4 linked regions of the Homo sapiens genome follow. The protein of the gene in region 3 purifies or fractionates together with the protein of the main gene of each other region. This does not show direct contact. Each region holds a gene or a part of one and is shown on either strand. Other genes may lie near its edges.

Region 1 (3,768 bases), on a different chromosome or scaffold from region 3:
ATGATGACCAAACCTCTAGTGTACCTCATTCTGCCATCTCTGATATTATGTCATCTGATCAAGAAACTTACTCTTGTAAACCTCATGGACGGACTCCACTTACCTCAGCTGATGAGCATGTACATTCCAAACTGGAAGGAAGTAAAGTAACGAAATCTAAGACTTCTCCGGTGGTATCTGGTTCATCTAGTAAATCAACCACCCTTCCAAGGCCACGACCTACCAGGACTTCCCTCTTGCGCAGAGCACGACTTGGTGAAGCTTCAGACAGTGAACTTGCTGATGCTGACAAAGCATCTGTTGCTTCTGAAGTATCCACAACAAGTTCTACATCAAAACCTCCCACAGGAAGGCGTAACATCTCTCGGATTGATTTATTGGCTCAGCCTCGTAGAACACGACTTGGCTCACTGTCAGCTCGTAGTGACTCTGAAGCAACAATTTCTAGAAGTAGTGCCTCTTCGAGGACCGCAGAAGCCATCATTAGAAGTGGAGCCAGACTAGTACCATCAGATAAATTTTCTCCTAGAATTAGAGCTAACAGTATCTCTCGACTCTCAGACTCCAAGGTCAAAAGTATGACCTCAGCTCATGGCTCTGCTTCAGGTAAATTGGATCCAGATTTCTAATAGCATTAGCATGTTGTATATTTGGGGGCTCCTTTTTTTTTTTAAAAAAAAAAGTAAGGTTCTAGTTGTCTTCCCAAGATACTCATTCAAAACAAAAGTTATGATATACGGGGCAGCGGCGGTGGGGGGTCTATAAAACAGTTTTATTTAGCATAGTAAATGGAAAATCAGAAGTTATACATACTTCCAATTAGAGTCCTGGCGCAAAATAGTGATTTCAAAACTAGGAATTCATTGAGCTGATTTAGGAGTTTTAATTTTCCAGTTGGTGCTATATTTGGATGTGTGTGTCAAAATTAAATTATCTGGAAGTATCTGGTTTAAAGTATAGGAATTAACATTGTGCTTCTAAAAGCATGTGTTTAACCTTTAAATATCCTCACATAATTCAAAGCCCTTAAGAACTTGAAGAAAAGCAGTATATGCTTTATTACTCCTTTCAGAGTTAAATGAAATAATCAATGTTTTCTTTTTTTTCCCTACCCATTTTGAAATGTCTCACATACTTTACCTATACTTTTTAAAGTTAAATCTGTTTATAGTTGGAGCAGGTGAAAACTAACCTTAATTTATTTCAGTGGAAGAAGATGGATTCATGGGGAATCACTCAGCGTATATTGGCCAAACTGGGCTGTAGAAATTTAACTGGTTATGAGCATTATCTCACAAAGTGCTGTTATATCATTTAACTCTAGTAATTAGGTGTAATTGAATATAATAACTACAAAAACTACTTACTTTCCACCAGAATTTAACTGATGCTGTTATATTTGTTTGCTTATGTGCTTTGTATTCAGAGCTGAGGCCATTGAGATACATGTGTGACCAAAGAGTAATGAGGTGGATATTTGTTTGTGTCCTATATGCATGTTCTCATTACTTCATAATGAGCCTCATATGTGGACGTGGCTGCAAAGGCCAGTGTGGGAGGCCAGCTGTTACAACGGACATGAAGATGTGTGATTATTTTCAGTAGGCAGACATCTAAGTAAGCCCTAAGTCTTGAGTTAAGAGTGGAGGGGAAGTTGATATGAAATTTCATCTTTTTATTTTTGATTGGTTTACATCTACCACACCATCTCCTACAAGACCCTAAAGGAACAGTACTTTGCATATGATACTTTTTTCACTTTTCTTCCTCTTTTCACTGCTGCTTTCCTCCACTCCATTCACCTGTATCTCTTTGCTGGTCAGTGGGTTTGGTAATGATGGTCACTGTCTATGGTAGAAATGGACGTAGGGTGAAGCCAGATAGCATATAATCATGATTCCAAAAAAAATAGACAACATTTTCCTTATTACCCCAGTCCTCATTTCCACACTTGAAGCTTTGGTTGGTGGTTCACAAATTTATTGCCAAATATTTTAAAACTAACTACTACATTTTGGTTTATTTTCATTCTGTTTTTGGTTATGGCTCTACTTCAATTCACATTTCATCTGTGCTGCATTTCCTGATGAAATTTCTTCTGCTGTACTCCTTGTTTTATCACCTCATCTCCATTAAGATATGTATGTATTTTCCTGTCTTAACATAATTTCTATGTTACCAGATAGCTTGGAGTACCTCTTAACACATGATGTGGTTTTATTCCTCGATATTTAGGATAAGGCTTGAGATGCAAGCTAAATATGATTACTTCAGCAAGTCTAAGAAACAACTGTAAGATGCTATATATAAAGACAGATTTCATTTTCTGCTTCTTTGAATACAGAACTTGATAAATACTCAGTTTTCTGTGTCCAAAAATAACCTTGAATTGTGTATGAAATTCCCTAGGACACATTGATGTATATGATTTTAGTCTTTTCATACTTACTAGCAGTATATTAAATAATTAGAATCATGGAATTTAAAAGTTAGAAGGGTTATTCTCTTAAGGGAACCAAGGCCAAGAGAGGAAATAACCTGCCCTGGGCACATGGCAGTGGCAGGGGCAGAATAAGAATCAAAGACTTTTAATCCCCAGCCTGTTTTTCTACCGTATCTATTCTAGCTCTAAGAAATAGTTTCAGTGTTTACTTGTATGCAAGCTTCCAGAAGACAGCTAGAATCTACTGGATTATTATCAGGAGTATATGCAAGGTCAATATACAATATAAAGGTTTTGGTATTGTTTACTAAAATCTTTGCAGTTCTGATGTTTTACCCAGTTTATATTCTCTATTCCACCTTATGAGTGTAAAGCCATATTGTAATCTAGGATTGTATATTCAGATTCTCTCAAGATACCCACTTATAGTATTAGACCTTATCTAGGACAGTGGCCAGGATCTTTCCTTCAGTGAGAACATACTATAATAGCTGTATGGAAAAGGTGGTCAAACAAACAAACCTACCTGTTTGATTTTGCTAATTTGGTGCCTTTGATATTATAACATTTCTTTTTAAGATAATTATAATATTTTGAATGGAAAAAGAAAAGCAAAATTTTAACTTTTGAAACATGATTTAAAAGAATGTTAAATCATGCCGATCAGTGTTGCTGTGCACAGTATAAACTTTAAAGACCTTGGAAATAATCTGAACCTAGCACTTGTGATATTGTCCCAATTGGATATGTAAAAATAATTCCATAATGTTTCCAATTCCATATTTTAGATGATGTCTCTAAAATATTTTTAGGCCAGCACAGTGTTTCATGCCTGTAATCCCAGTATTTTAGGGGAGGCCAAAGTTAGAGGATTACTTGAGCCCAGGAGTTCAAGGCTGCAGTGAGCTGTGATCACACTACTGCATTCCAGCCTTGGACAAGTGAGACCCTGTCTCCATTAAAAAAAAGTTTTTTTTAAAGAAATGTATGTGATAAAAATAGAAGATTGGAAATCTCAGATTTAGCAATATGAAGAGAAGAGTTCTGTATGTTTCTCTGATGTAATTTGCAATTTGCTTCTAGGAGTTTAACTAGTTTTTTTTTCCCCAAAACATTCTTTCAGTGCTTCTTTTTTTTTTTTTTGAGACGGACTCTTGCTCTTGTTGCCCAGGCTGGAGTGTAATGGCACAATCTCGGCTTACTGCAACCTCTGCCTCCTGGATTCAAGTGATTCTCCTGCCTCAGCCTCCCAAGTAGCTGGGATTACAGGCGTGTGCCACCATGCCCGCCTAATTTTTGTATTTTTAGTAGAGGAGAGGCTTCAC
Region 2 (3,768 bases), on a different chromosome or scaffold from region 3:
TATGGTCCAAAACTTCAGTTGTTGCAAATTAGTAACTTTCTGTTCTAACAAATTTGATTTTATCTTTTATTTTAGTTGGATTTGCAGTACTAAGCATAGAGTTTTGTTTCAACTGGCTTATGGAGAAATGCTTTTCAGTGAATTGTTACTAAAGGTTATTACTTTCATTTTTAAGGAGAACTTACGTTCCTTCACAAAAGATGCTCATGCTTTAATTTATAAAGATCTTCCATTTGAAACTCTGGAAGTTGAAGCAAAAGTGGCATTGGAAATATTTCAACACAGCAAGTAAGTGTTGGCTTTCTTTAAATCAAGGCTAACTCTCCCAGTATTATATGTAATAAAGAAAATTCAGGTCTTAAAAATTTTTATATTTGATATACATGTGACAGTGTATTATTTTCCAGTCTGAGACCTCTGTGATCTCATTTATTTCGCTGAGGAAAATGTTACCCATGTCCCTTGATAATTTTCTCACTTTGTTTTACTTCTCTGTTCTTGGACCAGCCTTTCTCATTATATCAACATAGTGGCATGTTTCCCTTTTTTCTTTCTAGTGTGAAGTGATAATGTACGTTAAGCGACTATATAATTGTGTGTATTTGGCAGTGTTTCTCTCCTACCCCTCCACACTTAAAATGACACTGATAAGATTGAAAATGCAAGCAGTTTGGGAGGGGGCTGACAGCTGAAGTAAAATGTTTACACAGCCAGGTCTTAATCTTCTGCATGTGAATTATTCATTTGATGGATTTTCTTTAACATTTTAATTCCTGCCTGGCTTCTCAGTTCTCAGAAAACTTTCAGTTCACCTTCTACTACCAGTTGTAAGAACATGAGCTAAATTTTAACATTAATCTAATACAATATTAGAACTAACTAGAAAGAGAAACCTGTGCTGTAAAAAAAAAAAAATAACAGAGTCTGAAGCCAAAATATGCACCTAAGAATTGTGAAAGTTTACTGATTAGAATTTCTTTAGGTATATAGAAGTTGAATTACAAATTCTCATAGGGATAGGTTATCGTAAATATATTGGGTTATGAGTGTGTTTTTGACACATACTTTATAGCTTGGCATTTCTCAAAGCAGTCTGTCTTATAGTATTCTTCTATAGGATGTTAATTGACATGTGAAACCATGTACTGTGTTAAGCTGAGTTTGAAGAACAGTGGCTTAAAAAATTTTACTCGGCTGGGCGCGGTGGCTCACGCCTGTAATCCCAGCACTTTGGGAGGCCGAGGCGGGCAGATCACGAGGTCAGGAGATCGAGACCATCTTGGCTAACACGGTGAAACCCCGTCTCTTTTAAAAATACAAAAAATTAGCTGGGCGTGGTGGCGGGCGCCTGTAGTCCCAGCTACTCAGGAGGCTGAGGCAGGAGAATGGCGTGAACCCGGGAGGCGGAGCTTGCAGTGAGCCTAGGTGGCGCCACTGCAGTCCGGCCTGGGCGAAAGAGCGAGACTCCGTCTCAAAAAAAAAAAAAAAATTTTTACTCATCGCACTCAACGGTCTCCCAAAGTGGACATTGAAAATTTCCCAAATATATTTGCCCATGAAACACTTTTTCTTGAAACATTTTTAGCGTGTCCTGGAACCAGTGGATTTAGAAACCAGTTGTAATGTACTGTTTTAACTAGAGTACAGATAGTATTGTAGAACCAAACCACCATTTATAGCATTGATTCGACAAGAAAATTCTTTGGACTATCTGAACACGTGAAGTCACTCTCTGTGACAAAAGTCTAGGCACATGCTGCCCAAAAGAAATATAATATGAGACATCTGTATAATTTGAAATTTTCTGTAGTTGCATTGAAAAAAAGTCAAAACAAAAGTTGAAGTTAATTTTAATGATTTTATTTAAATGATACATCTAAAATGTTACTCAGTGTAATCAATATTAAAATATTGATGTTATTTTATATTCTTTTTCACTAAATCTTCAGAACCTGGTATGTGTTTTACACTTAAGGCACATTTTAACTAGTACTAATCACATTTAAGTGCACCATGGTACTTTACTGGACAGTGTACTTTTGACTTCCATTCAGTACACATTGAGATTTCCCATTCCTCTAACTGTCAAGGACTGGTAGCGGCTTCTGGGACTTTTGTAACTTAGTTGAGTGTGTGGTAGGAGGAAGGGGATAATTCTGGAGGAAGCTTGATAGGACAAAAGAGTTGGTTCATTGAAGGTGGGTCAGTGATTGAGTCCTTCTGCTGCAGGAGTAAGGGTGGGACCTTTTTGTGGCTTTGACTCTCAGGGGACAGGAGCATCTCTTGGAGGTGGGTCAGGAGGGATAAGTATTCAAGGGAATTGGCACCCTTATTAGTGCCTGGGGGACTGTAGCAGTCAGTGGGTGTTTTTGCATAAACCAGTGTTCCCTAACTTTGCCACATAATTGTGCATACACCTGTGGTGCACCTACACATATTACTTGTTTAGCACCCTGAGGTAAACAGACAAAGCTCTCAATAGTAAATGGTAAAGTCATGGTTTGAACCTGGGCTGTGCAGTTTCATCTGTGCCTTTAGCTATACTGACAGAATTGGGTAGATTTGAGAGATACTGGGCAGTCAAATTGACAACTTGATAATGAATTGAATAAAGGAGATATGGTAGGAGAAAGGAATCAAGGAAATCTCCCAGGTTTTTCACATGGACACCTGGGTGGTTGGTGGTATCGTACTAAGACAGGAAATTCAGGAGGAAGAACAAGTTTGGGCGGGGAAAGAGGTGGTAATTTGTGCAGTTTGCAAATTTCAGGGTAAGGTGCTTGTGGAACATCCTAGAGGATGTCCAAATGGGTCTTGGATATACAGTTTGGTGGTCAGAAGAGGTAGGTAGATTAGAAGCAGAGATATAGGACATACAACTACATAAGTTGTAGCTCAAGGGGCTGACCTAGGGAGGATGCTTAGCGTGAAAAGAGGGTGTAGGATAGAATTCTCAAAGGGTAGAGAAAGACAGGAGTGGCCAGAGATGTAAAATAACAAGCAGTAAGGAATGCCACTGATACCCATGGAAAGAGCACTTTGAGGCTGGATGTGGTGGTTCATCGCTATAATCCCAGCATTTTGGGAGACTGAGGCAGGAGGATTGCTTGACACCAGGAGTTTGAGACCAGCCTGAGCAACATGGCAAGACCCTATCTTTACCAAAAAAAGTTAGCCCGGCATGGTGGCTCACACCTGTAGTCCCAGCTACTTGGGTGGCTGAGGCAGGAGGGTCGCTTGAGCCCGAAGTTTGAGACTGCAGTGAGCTATAATTATGCCACTGCATTCCAGGGTGGGTGATAAGAGTAAGACCCTGCCTCAAAAAAAAAAAAAAAAAAAAGAACAAAGAAATAAAAATGGAAAGAAAGAACACATTGAGAAGTGGAGGTGAGCATTGGTATTAAGAAAATGAGGACCAAAAAATGTCCACTGGGTTGACACCAAGCAGGTCTGTGACTTTGTTGAGAACAGTTTGGCAGAGTCATGGGGCTGTGGCCAGATTAAAGGGAGGTTCCAAGTGTAACCTACTCTCAGAAAGTATGGCTGAAGAGGAAGAGAAAGGGAGGTATCTTTAAACACCTTTTTACATATTTTGAGTTAAAAAAATGTTTTTTTCTTTGCTGCTTTTCAGGTACAAAGTAGATTTCATAGAAGAGAAGGCATCTCAGAACCCTGAGAGAATAGTCAAGCTACACAGGTAAGTAAAAGTCTAAAAACTGGCTGCTATGTTAGAGTAAGGCTTAGCTTTATTGTTATCTGAATGAAGCA
Region 3 (2,899 bases):
AAAATGGAGTCTCTCATGTCTACTTCTTTCTACATAGACACTGTAACAGTCTGATCTCTCTTTCTTTTCCCCACAGATAACAGGGGCAGAGAAAGAACAGAACTACAGCTCCTGTGGCATCACCTGGAGATGAACGATTTCATCTCTAATTATTCAGGTCCTTATTGCTGGTAAACTATGTTTCATCAATGCTACTAATGAAACTGTCCAAAAACAAAAGATATGAAGAAGGTAGGTTAGTCTTAAAGATGTTTAGGTTAGACACTAACCACTGCTCAGCAACTCCCTTCAATTTGAGCTGAAGCTTAGAATCCCATTGGGATGATTCATCTATCAATGCTTACTGAGTGGCTATTCTATGTAAAGCATGGTTTAAAGTGCAGGCAAACAGAAGATTCAGTCCTTGCCTTCATGTCTACAGAGCAAAACGTTAAGAAAATCAATATTTACAAATATGGGATAAATGTCTCACATACAGTGATGCTCAGTAAATTCACTGATTGGACAAATCAATATTGTAATAAAAGTGTATACAAAAACCAGGAGACCTTCCCAAAGCATATTTATCCCTTTGCCATAACACAAATGAGCCTGAAAGTTTACTATTTTGTATACCTGTACATAGAAACCACCCTTAGAAGAATAAACAACTAGTAAATGCCATAACAGATAGTAGCTACCAAGATTATACCACAAAAAGGAGAGCGAGAACGACAGTCAGAAAAAAGATTATTACTCATTTTACGTAAAAGAGTATTTTAATTCTTGTCCTTGGAAGCCATAAAGATTATACATGACTTGGAAATGAGACTGTACCAAATGATGGCCAAAGAAGAATCATCCTTTCTACTCCTTCTCTTTCGTCTGGTCACTCAGAAATATAATATTATCTGTAAAAAAGCCAAAATGTAAATATTAATTTCAGAACTCTTTCTCCATCTCATTCAATAATTCTCCTCTAATACATATAACTTTAGTGCTGTTCATTAAAAGGATTTTAGCCATCTTTTCAAAATATTAAATCACTTGCTATGCTCACGAGAGGTATATATACAGTTGGCATAAGTGGAGCTACAAGTTAGGCACTGGCTGCTTTTCGAACAATTCAGATCTTGTTAGAAGAGGTGGGATATTTCTTGTCTTCCAGTCTTCTCAGAAACAATTTCCTGCAAAAGAACTGGTCACAAAATTGGATGCTTGCAATGGTCAGGCAGATTCCACGACACTAGGCAGCACATCCTCAGAGAAAAGGACAAAAGTGTATCACATTCTACACTCTGGGGGTCTAGAGGAAAGAGTAAGAGTCCATATGTGGCCCTGTTAGCAATGACAGGATTTACTTACGTTTTTAACTTTAAAAATTCAAATAGAAGAAATTTTATTTTTAAATTACAATACAGAATAACTTTTTGTTTTTCCTTTGGAGATGGAGTCTCTGTCACCCAGGCTGGAGTGAAGTGGTGCAATCTCAGCTTACTGCAACCTCTGCCTCCTGGGTTCAAGCGATTCTCCTGCCTCAGCCTCTCCAGTAGCTGGGATTATAGGTGTGCACCACCATGCCTGGCTAACTTTTGTATTTTTAATAGAGACAGGGTTTCACCATGTTGGCCAGGCTGGTCTTGAACTCCTGACCTCAAGTGATCTGCCCGCCTTGGCCTCCCAAAGTGCTGGGATTACAGGCATGAGCACCGCACCTGGCCCAGAATAATTTTAATATACCAATTCTTGGGAACATTTTATGAATCAACATCACAGAGTTAGCATTTTTATCCAAAAATATCAGACGTTGCTCTTAAAATGCTGTTCCAGAGGGAGTTAGCTAAAAATAAACAAAAGAACAGAGGCAAGTAGTAGTCATCCTTCAGTATCCATTGGGGGACTGGTTCCAGGACCCCTATAGATACCAAAATCCACAATGCTCAAGTCCCTGATATAAAATGGTATAGTAATCACATATAACCTATGTACTTCCTCTTATATACTTTAAATCATCTTTAGATTACTTACAATATCTAATACAAGGTAAATGCTATGTTAACAGCTGTTACACTGTATTGTTTCACTTGTATTTTTGTTGTTGTTGTATTATTTTTATTGGTTTCTTTTTTTCACATATATTCAATCTGTGCTTGGTTGAATCCACAGATGCAGAAACAAGGGACATGGAGGAATGACTGCATTTCCTTTATAATTCCAAAAGATTCTTGTAACTATAAAATTATCCACCAAGGACTGAATATTTGTTCATGACCATAGTCTTCCAAAAACTAGAATGTTTTGGTCCAGAACGGTTACTTCAGAACAAACTACTCGAATTAATATCACTGTGGAAAAAGCCAAGAGTGCCATCCACTGGTGGTGGTTTTTTAGTTACAGATAGGATCCCTAGGAGAAAAAAAAATCACCAATAAAACAGATCAACCAATAAACTCTATTTTCTTCAATTCAAATGTCACTGAAGAGCTCTTCAATTTTACCATTAGACATAAACCTAAAGTAAACTGACTGTGCTAGTGGAACCTAGTGACAAGGAAAAAAAACAAAACAGCATATCATCTGAAATGCTTCCGTTTGGCTTATTAGTAACAACTCAATAATCCGAACAATCTAAAGTTTGCCCACACTTGTGGTTTATATTGGGACCCACAGGAGGGTAGGAAAATACCTACACTGCTTTTCAAGGTTAATACACTTTCAAAGAAACTTAGCAGTAAGAAACCATGTGAGCATTCTATACAAATTATAAATTATTAATAAGGTATGGTGGTTAAGACATGAACTCTGGAGCAAAGGAAAGAAGAAAGATAAAAGGCAAATCTAAGAGACTTAAGGTAGAAATCATGTAATATAATGTATGAATGTTTATGAAGTTATCAAGGAAATTTGAACACTACGATAT
Region 4 (3,175 bases), on a different chromosome or scaffold from region 3:
ACTGAATGCTGTTTTCCATAGGGTCTTCCAAAAACATCAATACTCTGTCATTTTAATTTTCCCAGAGACATCTCTCCTGAAGCCCACTCTCTTCCCATTTCAGTATACAGCTGTGACTGTGTGTAGCTAGATGCAGCTATATGGAGAATCACAGATGAACTATAATAATCGGGAAAAGATTGATACTTAATAAATGCCTTTGGAAAAACTGTTTAGAGAAAAAATGAATTTAGATTAATACTTCACACTGGAATTTCAAATGTTTTAATAAGCTAAGCCAAAATAAGTAAATGTTATAAGAATATAACTACCTCAGCTGTCCAAAGCTGGTTTTGGTTTCATCATGGAAGCAAGAGGAAATTAATGACAGGATTAACCACAACTTAAAAAAATGGATGTGCATTGAAAATTAAGACAAATACATGAAATGGGGAAATCGTTTACACTCTGAGATAAGTATCTATAATTATTAAATGAGTTTAGTACTCGTCAGGAACTATTAAATTTAAATATTAATATCCTTTCAATTCTTAGCAAATAAGATGAATAGTTGACAAAATGGAATACAAATATGAAACATTAATAAAGAACCACAACTTGAATAGTAGATTTCACCTCAGACTTAAACAGGCGGCTGTGTAATTGATTGACAGTGGAAAAATAGTCCACTTACGTGTTATTCCTGCTGTAAATATTTTTCTGGAGTATTATCCAGCGATAAGCAGCAAAAGCTATAAAAGCTGATAATACTTTTTGATATGATCGTTCCATTGTTTGCAATATATTTTTATTATACAGAAGTAACTCTCAAAAGAGGATTTTTCTTTTGCAAAATGTGCTAAATGTAATAGAAAAAGAAAGACAAAGTAGTATGTTGGTATAAAAACCATCTCATTAAGAACTATAGCAGGTCTCTGTATTACCTCGTAAAAAAAAGTATATTAATAAAATGAGAAGGAAAAAAGGCAGAACACAGAAGCATATGTGTAATGATAATATTAATTATGCTTAAGGATCAAAGAGTCCATAAAACAGATTAATGGTTTCCAGAGGTTAAGGATGGTTGGGGAAGGAACAGAGAGATGGATATGACTGTCAAGGGTGGCACGAGGGAGATCTTCGTGGTGATGAGTATTCTGTATCTTGATTGAGTGATAGTTAACAGGAACTTAGGTGATAAAATGACAGAGATCTATACACAGGCATTATCTCATGGTGAGCTTCCTGGTTTTGACTTTGTTATATTCTAATTATGTCAGATGTAACCATGGCAGGAAACTGGGTGAAGAGCACACAGTACTTTTCAATATGATCTCTGTGTCTTTCTATAAATCTATCATTTAAAAAAAAAAAGTTGGTTTTTTAAGTTTCTAAAATCTTATAAAATCGTTGGCATACTCAGGTTAAAGGGATATTTTGGGGTGTTCAGTTTTGTTTTGCTTTTCGTCTTGTGATTTTGTTTTTTCCATGTTAAAGTTGGTTGAACATACAGTTATTTTAAGTGCCTGTGTATTCTTCATAATTTATGGAATCAATAGATTTTGCTGTGGATTTTCTGCCACCTTGTTACTTCTTTTATTTTTTTTTCTTCTTAGTATGTGCCAAGAGTTGTAACCTCTGCACAACAGAAAGCAGGAAGAACTATTACAGCCCGGATCACAGGAAGATGTGATTTTGCTTCAAAAAATAGAATTAGCAGCAGTTTAGCTATAATGGGAGTTTCTCCTCCCATGAGCTCAGTTGTTGTGGAAAAACATCATCCAGTCACAGTGGTGAGTCCACATTTGATGACCTTTTGTCAAAAAGTCTTTTTCCTGAGAGTTCATAGACTAGTAAACACTTACATAACATGTTGAGAAGATAAAAATTTATGATGACTGGTACTTGTTCTGCCTTTTCCTGTTACAGTTTTTTTTTTTTTTTTAATATATATACTTGTTTTTCTCAAACCTGCTATAAATCTACGTTTCTGCTGTTGGGAAATTAATTTCAGAAACATCGTTTCTTCCAAACTGTAAAAATTATAAAATACTAAAAGTAATCCAGTGTGTTTGTGGTCAAAAGAGTAAAATATGTAAATGCTTTATTATCAGTTTAAAAAGAGACAAAAATTGTTCACTCACTAGCTGCTCATGTAGCAGATATTTGATTACAAGAAAACTCCCCTACATTTATAGTTTTTAATTTTTGGTCCTTTTTTAAAAAAAGTCTTCCCCTTTTTTCAGTACAATTGTCAGCATGTTTTTAGTTTAACAAAATTCAACTTGCAGTAAATGCATGTGATATAAAGAAGGTGCATTGAATTTGAAGCAAAAATTTTAAAACCCGAGTTAGTGCTTCAGCTTTGCTACTTGTTGGCTTTGTGATATATACAAATCAAGTAAAATATTTGAGCCTCCACTTTCTCTTCTGTAAAATGGGGTTAATAAAAATAGTTAGCTCCTTGGGTTATTGTTAGGATTCAAGATTAAATGAGATAATGTGAAAATTAAACGAGATGTATTAAGGCATTTTATAAACTATAAAACCATAAGCAAATTTAACTTACTGAAAGTTACTAGAAAAAGATACATGAGATATCTCTGAATTATTTCCTACAAATGTGTACGAATCAACAATTATCTCAAAAAGTATAATAAGAGTGATAAGAACATCCCTAAAGAAAAACAAGGATTTATTTATTTATTTATTTATTTATTTTTTATTTATTTTTTTTTTTGAGACAGAGTTTCTCTCTTGTCTCCCAGGCTAGATAGAGTGCAATGGCGCAATGTTGGCGCACTGCAATCTCCGCCCCCTGGGTTCAAACAATTCTCCTGCCTCAGCCTCCCGAGTAGCTGGGATTACAGGCACCCGCCACCACCCCCAGCTGATTTCAGGGACTGATTTTAAAAGAGAATGCCCTCTATAAATTCTCAGCATCGGACAACGTTCCTGTGTACTTTCTAAGTATTAGCAAAAAAAAAGTATATGGAATGATTTTAAATCCTTTTTTCCCGAGTACTAGCTGGGCACTAGATGATTAAATGAAGACAAGCTGGATTGATTTGAACTGAACTTCAGGTGAAGTGGGACCTTAGCGAGGTGGAAGGCTGGAGATAGAAGCACCAAGTCCAGATAGAGACATGGAGATGACAGAGGATTTATTTTAGAATTATCTTAGGTTTCATGTTTC

Evidence for each region.
Region 1: the proteins of SSBP1 (region 3) and CEP170 purify together in Homo sapiens (co-immunoprecipitation; one large-scale study listed by IntAct). This does not show direct contact.
Region 2: the proteins of SSBP1 (region 3) and MRPL39 purify together in Homo sapiens (tandem affinity purification; one large-scale study listed by IntAct). This does not show direct contact.
Region 4: the proteins of SSBP1 (region 3) and POC5 purify together in Homo sapiens (co-immunoprecipitation; one large-scale study listed by IntAct). This does not show direct contact.

The regions. Positions count from the first base shown.
Region 1 is NC_000001.11:243,161,122-243,164,889, reverse strand, and holds part of CEP170 (centrosomal protein of 170 kDa), read left to right. Parts: coding exon 1-606; intron 607-3,768.
Region 2 is NC_000021.9:25,593,822-25,597,589, reverse strand, and holds part of MRPL39 (large ribosomal subunit protein mL39), read left to right. Parts: intron 1-175; coding exon 176-288; intron 289-3,631; coding exon 3,632-3,697; intron 3,698-3,768.
Region 3 is NC_000007.14:141,748,302-141,751,200, reverse strand, and holds the end of SSBP1 (single-stranded DNA-binding protein, mitochondrial precursor), read right to left. Parts: intron 891-2,899; coding exon 847-890; 3' UTR 713-846; downstream 1-712.
Region 4 is NC_000005.10:75,676,371-75,679,545, reverse strand, and holds part of POC5 (centrosomal protein POC5), read left to right. Parts: intron 1-1,595; coding exon 1,596-1,772; intron 1,773-3,175. UniProt on the Homo sapiens protein: Essential for the assembly of the distal half of centrioles, required for centriole elongation. Acts as a negative regulator of centriole elongation.